Regions from separate parts of the Homo sapiens genome. Here all the other regions are linked to region 1. The links come from fine-mapping of genetic effects on gene expression. A gene starts in region 1. Each other region holds a variant in brackets. All regions are shown on one strand. Distances are from middle to middle.

Region 1 (5,151 bases):
AAACTGTCCAGAGATTTTACTGAGAAGCCAAGGTTGAAAAGCTCATCCTTGCCAAATCCTGGCTTTCCCCCTTCAACTCTATGTGATAGGATACTAATTCAAGGCAATGGCTGAAGTGCCTTCCCTAACCCCTGACTTCCTTGCTCCCTTCCCAAATGCACAGCTCAAGGGAATTCCCTTCTCCTCACCTCTGGAGCAATCTGGAGGCTAAACAGAAAGGATACCTACACATTAGAGAGAGTCTTGGAAATCTCATAATCCCAGTTCAAAAGGCACCACCCAGGTGAGACAGGAAGTGTGAACAGGGAGAACATTTTTTTGCCCTTGAAGTTGGGGAACTAGAGAGTAAATGGAACTTGTGTTTTGCTTTCCATATGGAATTACTGGCAGCAACAGCTTAATGAGCATCGCCCCTGCCCCAAGACGGGATCCAGAGGACTCTGTGAAGGTGGCAGGTTCAAGCATGTAAGGACTCTGAAAGTCCCCGAGACCTCTCCAACAGCCCCAGAGAAGATCTAGAAATTCCAACTCGTTATGAGCTGACAGAAAGGCTGATGTGCTGCGGAAGGGGTTGGTACCGGGACCTTGGATCAGAGGCTTTGCAGGGTTGGGTCCATGAGGGGTCCAAAGAGAAACAGTTATGTCTCAACGAGGATGCAGTGCATGAGTGGGGCTTGGTAAAAACTCCATGTAGTGAATAAAGGGCTTCACTAATAAATTCTCTTATTAATCCCAAACTGTAGGCTACATCCAAGATTCTGTGATCATGTTCGTGTGTTTGGCTCTTCCCCTGAAAAATTAGCTCTTGTTTGGCTTTGCTTCCAATAGTAAGTGTTCCAGTTTGAAACATGGCATTTCATGGTTCTGGCTGGTCTCCTAGGGTCTGGTTTTACTAACAATTTTCTGAAAGGGAGGCAGTTAAAAAAAAAGAAAGCTCTCAAAAACAGTAGTCTACTCAATATAAGCAGCTCTTCCCAAGAGAAGTACAATTCTCTTTGAAGTTACACTCCACTAACACTTAAAGGAATAGAAGCCAAGGAGGAAAAAGAACTAATATTTACTAAGCTCCTCCAAAGTGCCAGGCACTTTACACATGCTCACTCTCTCTAATAGCCTATTATTCTCATTCAAGGTGGGGTAACTGAAGCAAAGAACCATTCATGTAACTTTGCTAAGTTCACACAACTTGTTGGAATGCAATCCACATCTGTGTGAGTATAAACTCCCTGCTTTTTCAGCTTCACCAAGATCCCTCTTTTTTTTTTTTTTTTTTTTTTTTGAGACGGAGTCTCGCTCTGTCTCCCAGGCTGGAGTGCAGTGGTGCGATCTTGGCTCACTGCAACCTCTGCCTCCCTTCCTTTTATTGGGGCACTATAGTATATGAAATAGATCATCAAGAAGTAATTGAGGTTCTTCCAGAATTTCCTGAACAATGAAATTAACAAGCACTGTTGGTAAATAATAAAAATGCTGGATTAATTTGAAAAAAAAAAAAGTACTAGAATGTTTCTATTCAGGCCGCACCTGAAAATGTGCTACTTATACTAATTAAAAATCCTCAGGCAAGAGACAACTGTGCCCAATTTTCAAGTTTTTTGTTTTGTTTTGTTTTGTTTTGTTGTTTTGTTAATTGTTGACCACGTCCTGAGTTCAGAGCGAATCCTCTGGGTGTTTAATAGGAAACAGATAATTTCTTTCTGAACCTAGCCTACACAAAGAAATCCAAAAGCGTGAGGAAGTGTGTGCTCTCCCCCTTCCCCTCATGGAATTAACTTTGTAGGACCACCTGGCCAGTGAGGCACCCAGATAGGAAACTTTTAATTTGCGTCAACAGAGGTGCTTTATCTGAATAAAACCCAGCCAGAGCCAGAGCGAAGGGGAGAGAGAGAATTGCTGACCAGAAGAACAGGAGAAGCAGGGAGGGAAGTGACCTTAAGAACACACACGGCCCGCGCATCCCACCCCACCAGAGTCTTTAACCCAAAGCCTCTGGGTTTCTCTAGCAGCTATGGGCAGGTGCCCTCCTCAGCCCGAGCCAGCTGCCCGCCCCACCCCGCCTTTTGGCCTCGCGCGGGCGTCGGTGGCCTGCAGGACTGGCAGGCATCCAGGCGCCAGGCGGAGCGCTGAGGGAGGCTCCCGCCGGCCGAACAGCGGGGAGACCCGTGAAGCAGGCGCACCGGCCACGCGCCCGGAGGGACAGGGACAGGGACCGGCAGGGGTGGGCCCGCCGCCAACCCGCCGGGCACCCCGCGGACTCGGGCCTAGCCAGCGACTCCCCCCGCCCTTCCCGCGCCCTGTCTCGCGCCCCGTCGCCTTCCTCCCGCGCCCCGTCGCCTTCCTCCCGCGCCCCGTCTCCCTCCTCCCGTGCCCCGTCTCCCTCCTCCCGTGCCCCAGGCCCTCAGCCCCCCACTTGACGGGCGCAGGGAAGGGGCGGGTGCCGCGCTCTCCTCCCGGCCCGCAGTCCCCTACCCGCGGCTCGAGCGCGCTGTACCTGGGGTTCTGGGGCCGCCCTCACCCTTGCGCCGCCGCCACCACCACTGCCGCCGGCCTAGCTCCCCCAGGACCGAAAGTGAAAGTGGAGCCCGGGGAGCGGCAGGCTGGCGCTGAGCGGCGCTTCGGCCCGAGCCCTAGCGGCAGGCGGGGAAGCCCCTGGCTAAGGCGGGAGCTGGGGAAAGGGTAAACGGGAGTGGGGCCGAGCGAGGGAAGCCGCAACTCCCAGGAAGGGAATTGGTAAATGAGCGCTGCACGCCGGGGAAGCTGCGAGGTTGCGATGCGGGGGATCAGGCGTAGGAAGTGCACGCCTTTCTGAACGCGGATCCGTGTGTGTGTGTGTGTGTGTGTGTGTGTGTGTGTGTGTGTGTGTGTGTGTGTGTGTGTGTGTGTGTGTGTGTGTTGAGATGCTTTTTGTTTTTGTCTTTTTTTTTTTTTCACTGTTTAGCGTTGCGAGGGTTAGGGGCATGCAGGAAAGGGCCGGTGCTCAAGTTGGGGACCGAAGCCAGGCAGGCGCTGACAAGTCCACCAAGCCTAGACGCGTTCGACGCCCATTGGACTCGCTGGGTGTCCGTCATCTCGCCACTGCCAGTGGGCTGAGAGCTCTTGGCCCGCCTCGGAAAGAAACATGAACCCAGTACTCTGTCGTGGCAAAGTGCCGCACCTTCTGGGGCTTCGGTAGAGAATGACTACAGTGGGAGATGCTGTAGAGGAGGAAGGTGGGTTAGAGGTGGCCCCCAGGACTTTCCTGCACTACCAAGGGCCACTGTACCCCAAGGATTAGCTGCTTCCCGCATCAACACGTTCCCTCTGATTTTTCAAAGTAAATGACCATTTCTTCACTCCCCTTAGAACAATTAAAGCTGAATAAAATGGCCAAAAAGACCATCTTTAAACAGTTGAGGCTAAATGAGGTAACAAGTCAAGAAAACACAAACATTAAAACACCAAATGCTACAAGTTTATTACCGAAAATGGGTCCCGATCCAGACCCCAAGAGAGGGTTCTTGGATTTTGCGCAAGAAAGAATTTGAGGGGAGTCCATGGAGTAAAGTGAAAGCAAGTAATTAAGAAACTAAAGGAATAAAAGAATGGCTACTCATAGGCAGAGCACCCCCAAGGGCTGTTGGTTGTCCATTTTTAGGGTTATTTCTTGATTATATGCTAAGCGGGGGAAATTATTCATGCCTCCCCTTTTTAGACCATATAGGGTAGCTTCCCGACGTTGCAGTGGCATTTGTAAACTGTCATGGAGCTGGTGAGACCGTAGCAGTGACGACCAGAGGACACTCTCATTGCCATCCTGGTTTTGGTGGGTTTTGGCCAGCTTCCTTACTGCAACCTGTTTTATCAGCAAGGTCTTTATGACCTGTGTCTTGTGCCTACCTTCTATCTCATTCTGTGACTTAGAATGTCTAACCTCCTGGGAGTGTAGCCCAGTAGGTCTCAGCCTTATTTTACCCAGCTCCTATTCAAGATGGAGTTGCTCTGGTTCAAACGTCTCTGATAATTTGGTGAGTGGACCATGGTCCTAGTGGGAACAGGACCCTTTTCATGCGGTTCTCAGACTTTCTTCTCCCACTTCTTTATTGGCCTTCTTCCCTTTGAGAACTGGGGATTCCAAGTCACTGCAACAGTATTTCTCTTTTTTTTTCAATATTATGTTTCCTTTTTAAAAATATAATGTTTCATACTGCCTATTATCTCTAGTCAAGGACATTTTATAATATAAAGATTAACACCCTGTTCCAAGACTCAACTACGGTGGGATCCAGGGAAGTTTTTTTCACTAAAATTCAACAAGAAATGAGGACTTTGAGATCTGGTAATTTCTGCATGTTCAGAATTTGACAGGAGGTATCAATGGATAGCGTGTAGCCTCCAAGACCTCCAGACATCTCGGAGTGCTCCCAGTTTACTCAAGATGAGACCTCTTTGTCCAGTAAATGTATGCATTTCTTTGCTTTTATATTTATATTTTTGAATATGATGGTTTTCCTTTGGCTTCTAGTAAAGTTTTTTTGTTTTTGTTTTTGTTTTTTGTTTATGTGTCTTTTTAAATACATATTGAAAGTCCAGCTGGCAGAACTGAATGCACCCAACAGGCTGGAGGTTAATACAGAAGACAGCTGAGGAGACAAACAGGGCAATGCCCTGAATGGATGTGGGCAGAAAGGAGCTGAAGTGTAGGCGAGGAGAGAGCTGACACCACCACCCGCTCCACGCCGTTTCCCCAAAAGCTCACCCTGACTCAGACTTTAGCCTGTCGCCCTGGCCGTGATTTCGTCTTTAGAGTTGAAGTGCACTACAAAGAGCGATAAGTCAGAGGATTTGGCAGCATTCACTTCTAGTTTCAAAGCCCTAGCAGGGATGTAGAGGACACAGACCTTGGAGTAAGGACTTTAAGGAGTCCTAGTTCTAGAGCCTGTGAGATCAAAACAGCACATTACCGAGCTTAGAAATGGTTAGAAGGAAGGGAACAGAGAGAAAGGGTACCTAGGTTTATTGATTCCCTACCAACTGTTAGATACTGTTAAATGCTAGCTATGTGTGCATGTGTGTGTTTATAATTTGATCTCTTCAGCAACCCTGTAATGTAGATATTATGCTTTATAGATGAGAAAAATGAGACAGGTCGGCAACTTGCTCAGAGTCAAAGAG
Region 2 (5,151 bases), 78 kb before region 1:
TGGTAAAGGGGGTTGCTGGCTAATTTAATTAATTTTTAGACCCTTTTGAATGGCTGTGTACATGTAGAATATATAAAATATAACATTAAGTCCGTATATTGTTAAAAAGAATATATAATATTTTATAAATGAAAACTATTTCAGAAGCATTTTGTTCAAATCTAGTTTTTTGTTATATGTATAGTGATTGCTTTAAAAAAGAAAAAAGCAAGAGGAACAGAAGAAAAAAGGCAAAGAGTAGTAATGAATATCCAATTCCAATTCCAATGAGACATCAAGAATAAGGTGTCTGCTGAACTCAGCACCTAGATGGCTTAGGGATGAGAATCTTTCCTAAGAGGCTGGCTGGGTTTATCGTGACAGTCTTACCTCAGTTGGTGGAGCTAGTTAACAGTTACACAGGAGGCTAGCTTCTGTTACTTTCCTGACCCATGACTGTCCAGAATGAATGCCATTCTGCCTCTGCATGGAGGTGAACCCCAGGTTGTGTACGGCAGCACAAATGTTTCTCTTCAATAAGGTGCTGCATTTTATTTTGTCAAGCACTTAAAGCAAGTACTAAGACAAGACCACAAGGTTTCCTGTGGAAAAGCACAGATATTTGAGCCCAGGTACTTCAGGCACAGGTGAGGGTGAAAGGTGAGGCTTGTCTGATTTTGTGGAAGGCCTCCTGGTGGCCCCTGGGGATGGTAGAACATAGGGTACTCCGAGTGAAGAATTCAGCAGCTAAGTGGAAGTTGTCTTCTATTCCACTTTAAATACTTTTATCTACTGAATCGCAAGAAAATTGGGTTTCTGGTGGTAAGATCTTCTCTACTAACAAAGAAACAAAACTCTGTAAATCCTATGAAAGGAGTTTTTTTTTTTTTTTGCTTTTGAGACGGAGTCTCGCTCTGTCGCCCAGGCTGGAGTGCAGTGGCGCCATCTTGGCTCACTGCAAGCTCCGCCTCCCGGGTTCACGCCATTCTCCTTCCTCCGCCTCCCGAGTAGCTGGGACTACAGGCACCCGCCACCAAGCCTGGCTCATTTTTTTGTATTTTTAGTAGAGACGGGGTTTCACTGTGTTAGCCAGGATGGTCTTGATCTCCTGACCTTGTGATACGCCCGCCTCGGCCTCCCAAAGTGCTGGGATTACAGGCGTGAGCCACCGCGCCTGGCCTAAAATATATTTTCTAGAGTGGGATTAGCTGTCAACAAACTCAGTAGTCACATGGCTCATGTGTTATCTGTGTACATTTGTGAAAAACAACCAGTAATTTAGAGACATACGTGTATTTGAAAATATTATTCAGATGAAATACTGAATTTTTCATTATTCTGATAATCACCATTCTCAGAGACTGCTGACAGGGTTACTATTGACCTGATACCACATGTCTACTTCTGTGATCCTAAAGAGTGGGCCTGAGTGGGCCTAAGCGGGCTTTTCCTGAAAAAGGCAGAATGTTTTAGTTGGAATTTTGTTCTTGTTCTTGTTTGAAAGTATTACAAGTTGGATTCCAGTGTAATCAAGTTTAATCTTTTGAAATTGACAGCTGTCTGTGGTTCATGAGAAAAAATCCCAAGAAGGAAAGCCAAAAGAACACACAGAGGTAAATGATTATCATCAGGACTTAATTATAAGGCAACCTCTTTTGGTGGGATATAATTAAAATCTTTCATTAATTCAAAACTAATCCCTACAATGGATAGTTGGATATTAGTTTTTTCAGCTAAAATGGTGCCATCCTGTGGCAATAGCAGTGTTTACAATTTATGTGATTCTTGCTGAATTTTGGGGGAAGGATTTGCACTATTTCAAATTTTGTACCTAAAGTGAAATTGTCACATGTACATCACACTAATTGAAATTTACATAATTTAGAACCACAGACAGCACAACTGTTATGAACAATTTTTATTCTATAGAGAAAAGTATCAGTATTATGTTTAAGACTACCATCTTGTTAACAATGTCTTTATATGTGTGTGGGCACCTGTGTGTGTACTTTCAGCCAAAAAGCCTACCCAAGCAGGCATCAGATACAGGAAGTAACGATGCTCACAATAAAAAAGCAGTTTCCAGATCAGCTGAACAGCAGCCATCAGAGAAATCAACAGAACCAAAGGTAAATGAAGCAGATTGATAGGAAAACCTTAACATCAACTGGATAATAAGATACGGTTCCCCTGTTCACACTGAGGTGTGTAGTTCAATCTATGGGGCTGTGCTGAATATATTTTGTATTATAGTGATTTGGTATTATTATTTTGTTGGTTTTTCAAATAGACTTGTAGGAACTTGGATGCATGGATGGCTTGAGAAGGGCATCAGATTGGTCTAGGGGATGCGCTGTCCGTCCTTCTCCTACTGCCCAGCAATAACCAGCTGTGACTGCAGGGCAGCAGGCTCTGCTGTCTCCCAGACAGGCAGCTTTGGATTGAGGCTGCCTCCTGGACCCCCCACACCTGGGCTGGGGAACATATGTGCCCTGAATTATCTGGTTCTTTAAATGGAAATCCTAAAGCATTTTTAGGGTCGTGTTGTAGAAGAGCTGAACTTACAGAGCCAAAAATTAGAAATTGCTTCCATACTTCTGTAGTTAATAGCAGCCACCTTTTAGAAGAATTAACATCTACAAGAAATACTTTTTCATTGAGAGCACTTGGAAGATAATAACGAGGTCTGCTTCACAGTATATTTTATATCAGAGATCACAGATTTGTGATCTACCACTTAAATGCCACATGT[A/C]TATTTTGTTTGGCTTACAATGTTGTTAAAAAATTATTTTTAATTAATTGCCAGCAATCAAAGTCAGGGCATTTCACATAACATCCCAAATTGTAACTTCTCTTGAAAAATCAGACTATCTAGTAAGAGTGAGCTCACGTGGCAACAATTGACTAGAGCCATTACACCTGGTATGTGTGCTCCAGTTTACCACAATCCTTACCTAGCCTGATTGACCTACGCAAGTTACCTGCGTGAACGTTTTAGGCTCTTGAGTCCAGCTTTATGTGGTGCTTAGCACTGCACCATGTACAATAGAAGTGAGCAAACATTCCCTTATGGTGTCCGTGAGGGTGAACTGGCAGATGTTAGTGACATTTGAAACTCATGATCTTGATAATAGCCATGCAGAGATACTTAGCTCTGTCAACCTTTTATCCTCACTGTCTTAGACTAAACCACAAGACATGATTTCTGCTGGTGGAGAGAGTGTTGCTGGTATCACTGCAATATCTGGCAAGCCGGGTGACAAGGTGAGCACACACAAGCAGACGGAAACGTGGGCCTCTGTGCTTCTCAAGTTTCTTTTATGAGAAACGTATGCTCAAATAACCTATCATCTGGCAAAACTGAACACTGCTTATATGTAAAATTTTGTGAAGAGCATGCATTTAAGGGATAGAGAGTGAACAAGATACCAAAAATAATTTGTAAATTTATATATTCAATAACTGCTTACTGAGTACATGCCATATATAACGTACTGATATCAATACCAAGGACATTAAAATGTGAGTTGACTCAGACTCTCCCTTCCAAATGTATAGATATGAAATAAAGCAAATACAATTTCCAGGAGCATTTGAATCGGCTTTTTCAGCTTTCAATGCTGATGCCAGCTGTCTTGATACTAGTGTATCACAACTATGACATCAACATGAATGGATATGAGAAGTTTTCAAAGGAAATATTTCAAGTCCTCTCAGGATGAAGTAGATGTGTTGAGCTGGGTGATTGTGGGCATAACTTCCTTAGATTTTTTGAAGAGCTGCTTCCAATACTTGCCCAGGAATATAAGATGAGAAGTTATCTACCTTTTCTACCCATAGCAATATAGAATTTTTTTTTTTACCTTATCCTTTAAGGTTTTTTTTTTTTTTTTTGCATTTATTTATTTATTTATTTTCATTATACTTTAAGTTTTAGGGTACATGTGCACATTGTGCAGGTTAGTTACATATGTATACATGTGCCATGCTGGTGCGCTGCACCCACTAACTCGTCATCTAGCATTAGGTATATCTCCCAATGCTATCCCTCCCCCCTCTCCCCACCCCTCCACAGTCCCCCGAGTGTGATATTCCCCTTCCTGTGTCCATGTGATCTCATTGTTCAATTCCCACGTATGAGTGAGAATATGCGGTGTTTGGTTTTTCGTTCTTGCGATAGTTTACTGAGAATGATGATTTCCAATTTCATCCATGTCCCTACAAAGGACATGAACTCATCATTTTTTATGGCTGCATAGTATTCCATGGTGTATATGTGCCACATTTTCTTAATCCACTCTGTCATTGTTGGACATTTGGGTTGGTTCGAAGTCTTTGCTATTGTGAATAATGCCGCAGTAAACATACTTGTGCATGTGTCTTTATAGCAGCATGATTTATAGTCCTTTTGGTATATACCCAGTAATGGGATGGCTAGGTCAAATGGTATTTCTAGTTCTAGATCCCTGAGGAATCGCCACACTGACTTCCACAAGGGTTGAACTAGTTTACAGTCCCACCAACAGTGTAAAAGTGTTCCTATTTCTCCACATCCTCTCCAGCACCTGTTGTTTCCTGACTTTTGAATGATTGCCATTCTAACTGGTGTGAGATGGTATCTCATTGTGGTTTTGATTTGCATTTCTCTGATGGCCAGTGATGATGAGCATTTTTTCATGTGTCTTTTGGCTGCATAAATGTCTTCTTTTGAGAAGTGTCTGTTCATGTCCTTCGCCCACTTTTTGATGGGGTTGTTTGTTTTTTTCTTGTAAATTTGTTTGAGTTCATTGTAGATTCTGGATATTAGCCCTTTGTCAGATGAGTAGGTTGCGAAAATTTTCTCCCATTTTGTAGGTTGCCTGTTCACTCTGATGGTAGTTTCTTTTGCTGTGCAGAAGCTCTTTAGTTTAATTAGATCCCATTTGTCAATTTTGGCTTTTGTTGCCATTGCTTTTGGTGTTTTGGACATGAAGTCCTTGCCCATGCCTATGTCCTGAATGGTAATGCCTAGGTTTTCTTCTAGGGTTTTTATGGTTTTAGGTCTAACGTCTGATCTTTGACAAACCTGAGAAAAACAAGCAATGGGGAAAGGATTCCCTATTTAATAAATGGTGCTGGGAAAACTGGCTAGCCATATGTAGAAAGCTGAAACTGGATCCCTTCCTTACACCT
Region 3 (5,151 bases), 53 kb after region 1:
ACCTGCTGCCTTTATAGAGCCCAGAGAAGTCCCCAGGTTAGATTAATCATGGTATGTAAATAGATAGTTACTGTAGCTAAAATGTCATGTCCAGAATAGAAGCCCAGCAAAGGAATAAAAGTGAGAAAAAGGAAGAGGAACAGTGTGGAACATCAGCAAGTCATTCTCATCACTTTAAAACTTCCCTGTGTTCTTGATTCACAGGCAAACACAAATCCAACAACATCACAAAACAGTTCCAAGAACCCTGGCTCTGAAGATTACTCCTTCAAAGCATGATATTGGTTGCTACAATTCCAAAAGAAAAAGATGAAGCTTATGTTAGACCAAGGCCCTGCCACATGCATACACACACACACACACACACACACACACACACACACACACACACACTGAACAACAGACATGTTCTATTCCTTTCCATGCCCCTAAGTAATTAGCACAAGGCCTTCGTTTGTTAGTTGTCTGTGCAGTTTGTTGAATTGGGTCTCTGGGCGACACAGGAGTGTCCTTCTTGTCCATCCTGGTCTGTACTTGGGGCTGTCAATGGAAAGCCTTCCTTCCACACTGCCAAAAAACCCCCCTGGAAAACAGAGTCCAAACACAGCAGGGGGCCACATTCACCTTCGTGTTCCCAACACGCTGTTGCTCTGCGAGTGCAGGTTGAGTTGAGGGAACAGTTCTGTTGCCCAGAGCATTGCCTCAGGCTCCCAGACCGTTTGTGCTGGGATACTAGATTGGCGGAACCAAAGAAGACCATTCTCCTCTGTAGGTGGATGGTTCCCTGCTTGTATCTTTCCAGAATTGGGGCAATCTGAGCCTCAATGTCACACAAGCTGCACAGTGCAATGTGGGGAATGCCCAGGACAGAGCTGAGAGGCTAGATCCTGCCTTGGCCTTTCATCTAGTCACTGTTAAGACCTTGGCAAACCACTTAACCTCACTGGGCTTCTATTTTCTCATCTGTAATATCTCCCCTGATTTCTGTGGAGATTGTTCTGAGGATCAATGACATAATATATATCAAAGTTTTTGTTAACTGCTAAGCAAGCCTAGTAGTACTTATGGCATTATTAATTTTGGCTGGCAACTATGACTCTGACCTATTGACATCAGCCTAATAACATCAGTAAGGCCAAGCAGGCTATGTTAATGTTTGAGGGAGATTTTTCATACATGAAATTTAAAATCCCCTCTAGCTGGTGTAAAATAATACTTAGCATACTACCTTCCCTGAGCTTGGGCTGGGCTGCAGTGAATGGCATATCGTTTTGTGATTTAACATCATATTGAGATAAAGTACAGCCCAAAATACATATTGTCTATCAATCTGTTAATTTTATTTATTTATTTATTTATTTAATTTTTGAGAGAGTCTCACTCTGTTGACCAGGCTGGAGCACAGTGGCATGATCTCGGCTCACTGCAACCTCTGTCTCGAGCAATTCTTCTGCCTCAGCCTCCAGAGTAGCTGGGATTACAGGCGTGTGCCACTACGCCTGGCTAATTTTTGTATTTTTGGTACAGACGGAGTTTCACCATGTTGGCCAGGCTGGTCTCGAACTCCTGACCTCAGGTGATCCACCTGCCTGGGCCTCCCAAAGTGCTGGGATTACAAGTGTGAGCCACTACACCCAGCCCTGTCTATAAATTTATAATGAGAATGTGTTTCACAGGATGTGTATTTATAAATATAAGTAATTATATTTATAATGATAAATTAGGCCTGTGTTGTTGTTTGTGGTGGTGATATTAAGGCTGAATTTACAGAGGAGAAGAACTAGTCTTACATTCATTCAACAAAATTATTTAGCAACTACTGTGTGCCAAGCTCACTGTATTAGATACTAAAATATAGCACTGAATGAAAAAGACATGGGCCCCAACCTTACTATATTACTGTCTGGTAACCCAGTTGAGTGTAAGGGGGTCTAGGAAGGTTTCCTTGAGTAAGAGTCAGTTTCTGGAAGACTTCCACAAGAAGGAGTTGGCTAGAATTCAGGGGAGTGGAATAAAAGGGGGAGCTAATGCACATTTGTCAGTTGGTTGCTGTTTATCATATTCTAAATGATTGCCTCACTTTTCAGTCCCACTGCCCCAAAGAAATCAGACTCAAATTTCCAGCCTCCATTATAGCCAAATTGCAGACAAGTGACTTACCTCTGCCAATCCAATGCAGTAATGTGCGACTTCAATTTACAAGTGAGCAACACAGGTAAACAGTCTTCATGTAGAGCTTTCTTTTCTTTCTTTTTTTTTTTTTAATTGTGTGGGCAGAAGCCTCTACCGACTGAAGAGAGCAGTCATTACAAGGTCAAAACCTGCCTTTGTGATTCTGTGGCCAAATTGTCTCCCTAGAAGTTTGTAAGTCTGTTTCTACAGCCTTCCTGACAATTCTTTGAACTGCCAAAATATTTTCATCAATTCCCACAAATAAGGCATCTGACCACTCCACAACAAAGAAGGTATGAACAAGGGCTTGTGCCTCTGATCTGCTGGTCTTATCACTTGCTGTGGCTTCCAGAAGCAGGTGGCATCAGTGTGGGTTTTCCCTGGGGACATCTTCA[T/G]GTTACAGAGGTAATGAACACACAGATACTTCACTAAGGCAGCCTTCGACTAACTCTCTGGTAACAAAGGATAGAGTGGCCTAATTAAGGAGAGTTTCTGATGAGCAGCCTGAGCCCCAGCGGATCTGAATGCAGATTAGGTAAAAATCTAGGTGGCTTTTGACTGGTATGTGCTTATTCTCATTTAAAGATTTCACAGGGATAGTCTCAAGGTTCATAAGCAGCTCCAAAGGTACTTGAAGATATTTCTGAAAGCCTTAATCAGAATTGGCAATGTTTCCTCTGATGCTGTGGATACCATTCGTCCTCCTCAGTAATAATAAGCACTAATATCTCTGGAGCACTTGGGATATGCCAGGCTTCATCACATACCATCTTATTTGATCCCAGCTACAACACTTTAAGACAGGTATTTTAATTATCCCCACTTTACAAATGAGGAAAGTGAGGCAACAGAACTTAAACATCTAACTGAAGTACATGGCCCAGCATTTGAACCCAGGACATTTAACTTCAAAGCCCATGTGCTTAACATTCCACTGTGACTACAGAGCAGAGACAACATCCTTGCGGGAATTCTGTTGCATTTACCCAACAGTAATTTTGCCTATTACTTTTTAATGATCAAAATAAACTTGAAATTTAAAGCATCCCATTCTAAAAAGCTTGTATGACTTGTGAACCAAGGTATATTGTGATTCTTTTTGAAAAAAAAATCAAGACAAGGTCTTGCTCTGTCACCCAGGTTGGAGTGCAATAGTGCAATCATGGCTTACTGCATCCTTGAACTCCTGGGCTCAAGTGATCCTCTTGGCTCAGCCTCCCAAGAAGTTGGAACCACAGGTGCACACAATCATGCCCAGCTAGTTTTATTTTTTTCTTTTTATTTTTTGTAGAGATGGGATCTTCCTATGTTGTCCAAGCTGGTCTCAAACTCCTGGCCTCAAACAATCCTGCCTCAGCCTCCCAGAGTGCTGGGATTACAGGCATGAGCCACCCTGCCCAGTCTAAATCAATCTTTACAAAAGGTGATACTATAAGTTCTTTAGTGGACAAGACATTGCTACCCAAGTGCCATCTCAATAAACAGTAAACTTTTACAACAAATAATCATGTAAATAAATAAATAAACTTGCCTTCTTATTAGTGAAATTGCGGCTGCCAACCTTGTGAAGATGGCCTGAGAATCAGTCTAACCCAAGCTGTCACAGAAAATCAGAAGGCAGCTATTAGCAAATATTTCAGTGTGTCAAAGCCAGATATGAGATCTGGAACTTGTAACAGAAACTCCCTGAAATTACAGTGGTTATGAATAAGGGGCATTAAAAGATTCCATCATTGTCTGGTGAATGGTTGACTTTTAGTAGCGAATGAGTTTTAAAGACCTCTGTTGTTTCATTTTAAGCTGATCTTTTCTTGATGGCAACAGGGTAACCTTCTCTGCAGCCACCATGATTGCCTAGAGATTATTCTTTATGCTCTGCCTCATTCCAAGCATATGAGGCAATTGAGAGATTAAGGAGGAAGAGAAGTGCTTGTTACAAGACTATCCCTGCACCATTCTCTGGGCCCATCCCTAAGAAAAGGTCTCATTTTGACCTTTCCTGTCCCCCTGCCATTTTGCTGTTACTTCCTACCAAAATGCCTTGGACCTTTCAGAGCTACCTCGTTTACCCTCACCCGTATCTGGGTTGAGCAGGGCATAACTGAAAGTGGCACACTTGCCATGTTAACTTATGCTTCTTGGAAACTTATGATTCACTTATTTTTTTTTACATAAGTATTTCTTCTTTTGTTAGAAGATCCACCTGCACTATCCTCTCAAGTCTCTCTTCTCTAAATCCACCACTGTGCCCTAAGTTTGCCCCCTGCCCCCACCTTCACTCCCTGTGTGCCCTCCTCAGGCTCCTCTCCATTCTAAGTACCCAAGGCTTGTTCCCCAATCAGTCTCTTCCTGCACCCTCCCTCACAATTTGCCCTCTGTCAGCTGCAGAGCCTCTACACCAGAACCTCTACAGATTCTACCAACAGCTCTACTCCCACCGTCCACCTCCTTAGCCCTCTGCAGTGTGGTTTCACCCTTTGCCTATCCCTGAAGTTAAGCGGTTTCTCTCAGAGGCATTTTCTGTGTCATCCAATTCAGTGGGTTTTTCTCAATCACCATCCTCACTCACCTTTCATTTGTGTCTCCTGATCACCACTTTTTCATGAAATTCTCTTCTCTTGGCTTCTGTCATGTTCTTATAATCCTCCCCCGTGCCCGATTTCTCTGGCTGTCTTTTCTTTTTCTTGTTCCCCGAAACAGAAGCTCCTTCAGCCTCTTTCTCTTTTTACTCTGTATTTTCTCTTAGCAGATTCACCCATGGTCACGACTTTGCTGCCTTTTTATGTGAATTCCTACCTGATTTTTTCATACATTTTTGTTCACATTTCTAACTACCCACTGATTTTTATGTGAAAATTGTTATTAGTTCTTCAAGCTAGATATGTTCAGGATCCAGTCACGTCTACCACTCCTCTCTGGTACAAACCCCTAATTCCAACCAGGAAATTTAGAAATCTTATTTAAAAAAAAATCTCATCT
Region 4 (5,151 bases), 300 kb before region 1:
GGAGTGGGCTGAAGAGTGTGGCACCAAGTGCAAATAAAAATAAAGTTAACAAAGTCAGGTAGAGTGCCTGGCTGAGGCGTCAACCTGAAAACCCTGAAAACTTCGGCAGAATGGCCATATCTAGATTAAAAAGTTATGGGTCGGATACCAGAGGCATCAGACAAGGAAAGAGGTTACTGAATGAAAAGGCCTGAGACAACTATAAAATATTAAATAATACAGGACAAAAAAAACTTAAATATGTCAGTAACACAATAAATGTACATGGGCTAAACTCTTCATTTAAAGATTAGAAGTATAGATTTTTAAAAACTCTTATCTATAAACAATTAGTCAGAGACATACCTAAAAAATAAAACAGGCATAATCATCTCATACTAGTTAAATATCAGTCAAAAAAAACTTGTGGAACAACGTTAATATCTGACAAAATTTACTTTAAGATAAAAAGCATTACTAGGGATAGAAATGGTAACCATGCAATCATAAGAGGATCATTTCATCAGAAAGATATAAAAATTCTTCATTTGTGATAGCTGCAAAAATACAAAATGCAAAAATTGACCAGAGGAAAATGTGTTTTGTTTCTATATACACCAAATAAATCCCATTTTTTCTAAAGTAGAATAAACAGAGATAAGTAATGCAATGAACCCATCACTCAATTTAAGTAATATTCAAAAGGAAATGGACAAATCCACCATTAGAACAGGAAATGTTAAAACACTTCTTTTGGTATAGTCATGTGCCACATAACAGTTCAGTCAAGGACAGACCACATATACAACGGTGATCCCATAGGATTATGATGGAGCTGAAAAATTCTTATTGCCTAGTGAATTGTTACAATTGTCTACAGTATTCAGTACAGTAACATGCTTTGTAGCGTATTGTGTGTAGGTGTGTAGTAGGCTATATTATCTAGGTTTGTATAAGAGGTGTACACCTATGATATACCTACAACAACAAAGTCATCTAACAACACATTTCCCAGAGCATGTCTCTGTTATTAAGTACACAGGACTTTATTTTTCTCACATAAAAAATAGTCTGCAAAGATTTGGAACATTTGAAAAAAACACAATTGGCAAGATTGATGTGATAGTTCCACCCTGTAGATTTAACCTTTTTTCTCTCACAGCACTCATAACATAAATCCTGTACTTCAAATCTCTGACTACCTTCTCTTCCATCAAATAAAAATAACACATAATTCTACCCTCTTGCCTTGGCCCACATTGTTGTCCAGCCTCCAAAGGCAAAGAATATCTTGACGTGTATTGTCATTTGTTTTTCTCTGGTTGCTTTTGTTTATATTATTATTTGAACTAGGTTGTAAGCTGTTTGATAGCAGAAACAGGATCTCAGGACAGGACTGAGTTCATAGCAGTATTTCTTTTTTAATTAAAGGATTTTAATTTTTAAAAATTCTTTAATTTTAATTAATTTTTTATTTCTTAAAATTAAAGATTAAAGAAATTGTTTAATTAAAAAACAGTGCATGTTCTTTGTCACAAATGAACAATTCAAAGATGTATAAAAAAAATTAATGCTTTTCCCCCATCCTACTCTGTTAAGATAATCAAGGTTAGCAAGTTACCTAGTCTTTCTTTCTTTCTTTCTTTCTTTCTTTCTTTCTTTCTTTCTTTCTTTCTTCTATCCATCTAAACATTGACCTCTATCTGCTTTTGGGGGTGAGGTGGGAGTTTATGTTTTTTACTAAATATTAGATCTACTACATGTATTACTTAGAAACATTTGCAAGCATAAAAGACTATGGAAATTTTTGCCAGATTAATCAATATGACTCCAACTCACTTCTTTAAATATCCACATGGCACTCTATAATACAGATGCCCTATAATTCTTCATCCCTCTTTGATTCATGGTTCATGGCTTTGGGTTGTTTCCAGTTTTTCTGCCATCCAACAAGCTGGTGCTTTTCATTTCTGTGAGTTTAATTGCAAAGAGGAGGACTTGGGGGTCTTTTCTGATTTCTTTTTAAGCTTAAAAAGCTAGTTGTTGGTTGCCTTACTAAAAGGCTACTGTAATTTACATTCCCACAAGCAATATATGGAAGGCCTGCTCCTTGTCTTCAGAGTACTGTAATACCTTTCAATCTTTTTAAATTAGAAATGTAAAAACTGGTATCTCATGTTTGCTTTAGTTTGTATTTCACTAGTTACTAGGAGTTTCAAGCCTTTTCCTATATTGATTTTCACTTATATGTCCTTACCCATGAATTGTTTGTTTTTATTCTTGGCTCATTTTCCTCCTTTTTGCCTCAGAAGTACTTGTTCACAATATATTCTCCTATGTAAGGTGAAGGTGAAAGGGGGTGGCCAGCACAAATCCTCTTTGGCCTGAATTATTTGAGCTCTGCCTTAAACCTCCCTTTTTTCTTTGGCTGTGAAGACATGGTTCCATTTCTCTGGGAAATTGAATGCCCCCATTAAAAAGAAAAAGAAAAGAGAAGAAAGGGGGAAAGAAAGCTCTTACCCACCTCACATAATCCTCTTTGCTATCCACAAAGTCTGCTGCTGCTACACGATTCCCGTGGGATTTCTATTCCAGCAACCAAAGAGCACGGCATAAAACCCACCCACAGAGACCTCACAGTCTGAAGTGCCAGTGTTCAGAAACCATCCGCTTAATGTCGTGCTGCTCTATTGAAAAATGCGGACTCCTTCTGATAGTCTCACTTGAGGGAATAGAAGCCCAAGCGCAGCAGCCCAAATGACAGGGCTCACGCCTTCCCCTCCACCATGCTTTTATCCCACCTTTCCAACACCTCCACCCTTTTAGTCCTTTCCCTGGCCTGCACCCCACCTTTCATATTTCGTAAGAGCGCTTCACTCTCATTCCTGACATTAACGAGCTTCAAGCTGATTTTTGCAAAAAAGAAGAAGAAAATGGAAAAAGAAACCTCATCTTGTAGCCAATATGCCTCCAGCAGGCTTTCCCA[CAG/C]AGAGAGAAGTGACTCTCCAGGCTGCAGGGAGGCTGACATGCAGGCCAGAAGGCAGCTGTCTGCTTTATTGAAATGCCACCTTGACCATTGTGTGCTTTCTCTGAGGGCCGATTGATATTGTTTGAATGCACGGCCTATGACATGCTTTGTTTCTTATGTCCATTGGTCCTCTCAGCAGGCCAGCTGGAGGGAGGAGAATTCGAATCTTGCTGCCAGTCCTACCTTATCACTCTCCACCCTCTCCCCAGCGCTATCTGGCCCCATCAGCTTTTTCAAAAAGACCTCACCGGCACATCCAGTTCAGCACAGATATTGTCTCTTTTCTCATTTCCCATACACGATGGCAGTTTATCCTGTGATCCTGTCAAAAAAAAGTCCTCCAAAGAATTCCAAGAGGTAACACAGATGTGCTTGCACATTTCCACCCACACAGGAACCAGCTTGAAATGTCAGATGATCACTGTGTTTGAGCAAATATTAATTTCCTCATGAGCAGATTTTAAATTTGCAATCGTATCCCAAGGAAATCGTTTGTGCTTAGAATACTTTTTTTTTTTTTTTAACCTAACGTGTTTTTTTGTTCATCTTAAAGACAGACCACTGCCTAAACAACGTATTCCTCTTCCCCCTTCTCATAGATTTATTGAGGTATAATATAACCATAAAAGTCACCCACTTGAAATGTACAATTTGACAAGATTTGGTAACGGTACACACAGTTGTGCAACTGTCACCACAGTCCACTTTCCCCAAAGTCTCATCATCTCCAAAATTCCCTCTTGCCATTTGCTGTTGATTTCTGCTCCCACCTCAAATCCAGGCAACAAATGATGTGCTTTCTGTATCTGTTGTTTTGCCATTTCTAGAAATTTCGTATAAATGGAATAACACAATATGTAGCCTTTGTGTCTAGTGTGTTTTTGAGGTTCATTCACGTTGTTGCTCATATGAGTATTTTGTTATTTTTTAATAGTCAGCTACCAGTGTGGCCATTGTGGGTAGATCACATTTTGTTTATGCGTTCACCAGTTGATGGATCATTGATGTATTTCCAGTTTTTGACTATAGTGTCTCTGCTATGAACATTTCAATATAAGCCTTTGTGTGGACACATGTTTACATTTCTCTTGGGTAAATGTAAAGGAGCCGAACTGCTGGATCAAATGGTTAGCATGTGCTTAGCTTTCTAAAAAGCTGCCAAACTTCAAAATGTTAAAAAATAAAACCACGCCTCATTTTCAAGGTTGTATTGGCCATGAAATCACCCAATCTCAAAGAATAAATAAAAATTTTGAGCATAATTTAGCAAAGTTTTTAGACATAGAATCATGAGCAATAAAAGTAGTAGAACTTTAGCCGGGCATGGTGGCGGGTGCCTGTAATCCCAGCTACTCAGGAGGCTGATGCAGGAGAATCACTTGAACCCGGGAGGTGGAGGTTGCAGTGAGCCGAGACCCGCCACTGCACTCCAGCCTGGGCAACAGAGTGGGACTCCGTCTCAAAAAAAATAATAAAAATAAATAAAATCTAAGGAAAAGGAATATTATTAAATCCTCTTCTGTCACTGCTGAATCTTTAGCCCATAGAGAAGGGCCTTTTTTAGAACTCTGCTGACAAAGGAAAGGCATAGAATCACCACTGGTTCTCAGTTCTTTTGCCTCCACTTTCTGTGCCCTGCTTCTGTGCACTGAGCCTGAAGGGGCCTCTTTCAGAGATCTCAGGCTAAAAGGACCCAGTTGAGGCTGCTCCTGAAGAGGTAAGAGCAGAAGGGTTTTGGGTGCACAGGCCTTGTCAGTCCTACTGCCGCCAGCTGGGTGGAAGCTACATCCACAGGCTTCATCAACAGGGCACCTTATGGGTTTCCTCAGCCTCCTTCTAACAGCCTTCTGAATGCCTGGGAAGTGATAGACCAGGATTTCCCTGACCTTGGAGTACCTGAGGATTCTAGATCCCTGGGATCAGAAAAGAAGCTAAACTCTGCCCTGGTGGTTTGGGATGACAAGGCCATGGCACTAGAGAAAGAAGAGATTTTTCCAATTTTATTTCTGCTACCTACAAGTTTTATGTTCTTAAGCAAATTATGAACCTTTCTAGTTTTCCATTTTTCCCCGTCAGGGTAGCTGTGAGGATGAAGTGGGATAATGAGAGGCTGCACATAACACAAGCTCTTTGATGGCAGGAAT

Evidence for each region. PIP is the estimated chance that this variant, and not a neighbour inherited with it, causes the effect.
Region 2: its variant is the best candidate, but not a certain one, in a credible set for the expression of ERAP1 in whole blood (INTERVAL, PIP 0.50).
Region 3: its variant is the best candidate, but not a certain one, in a credible set for the expression of ERAP1 in whole blood (INTERVAL, PIP 0.89).
Region 4: its variant is the best candidate, but not a certain one, in a credible set for the expression of ERAP1 in whole blood (INTERVAL, PIP 0.65).

The regions. Positions count from the first base shown.
Region 1 is chr5:96,805,369-96,810,519 of GRCh38, forward strand. ERAP1 (endoplasmic reticulum aminopeptidase 1) reads right to left here and starts at 2,577. Exons shown (of 19, transcript NM_001040458.3): 1 at 2,492-2,577. LOC124901033 (a long non-coding RNA gene) reads left to right here and starts at 2,090. Exons shown (of 3, transcript XR_007058879.1): 1 at 2,090-3,209. RefSeq lists a silencer at 1,998-2,457 and enhancers at 2,030-2,531, 2,532-3,031, 3,188-3,257.
Region 2 is chr5:96,727,618-96,732,768 of GRCh38, forward strand. CAST (calpastatin) reads left to right here. Exons shown (of 32, transcript NM_001750.7): 7 at 1,536-1,592; 8 at 1,995-2,108; 9 at 3,163-3,243. Among named protein-coding and RNA genes, the nearest start is that of CAST, 68 kb to the left of the region's middle. The variant A/C (reference allele first, on the strand shown) is at 2,732.
Region 3 is chr5:96,858,714-96,863,864 of GRCh38, forward strand. It overlaps a transcript of ERAP1 not described here. Among named protein-coding and RNA genes, the nearest start is that of ERAP2, 15 kb to the right of the region's middle. The variant T/G (reference allele first, on the strand shown) is at 2,568.
Region 4 is chr5:96,501,011-96,506,161 of GRCh38, forward strand. The region is part of intron 4 of LOC101929710 (a long non-coding RNA gene); the gene reads left to right. It also overlaps a transcript of CAST not described here. Among named protein-coding and RNA genes, the nearest start is that of PCSK1, 70 kb to the left of the region's middle. The variant CAG/C (reference allele first, on the strand shown) is at 2,966.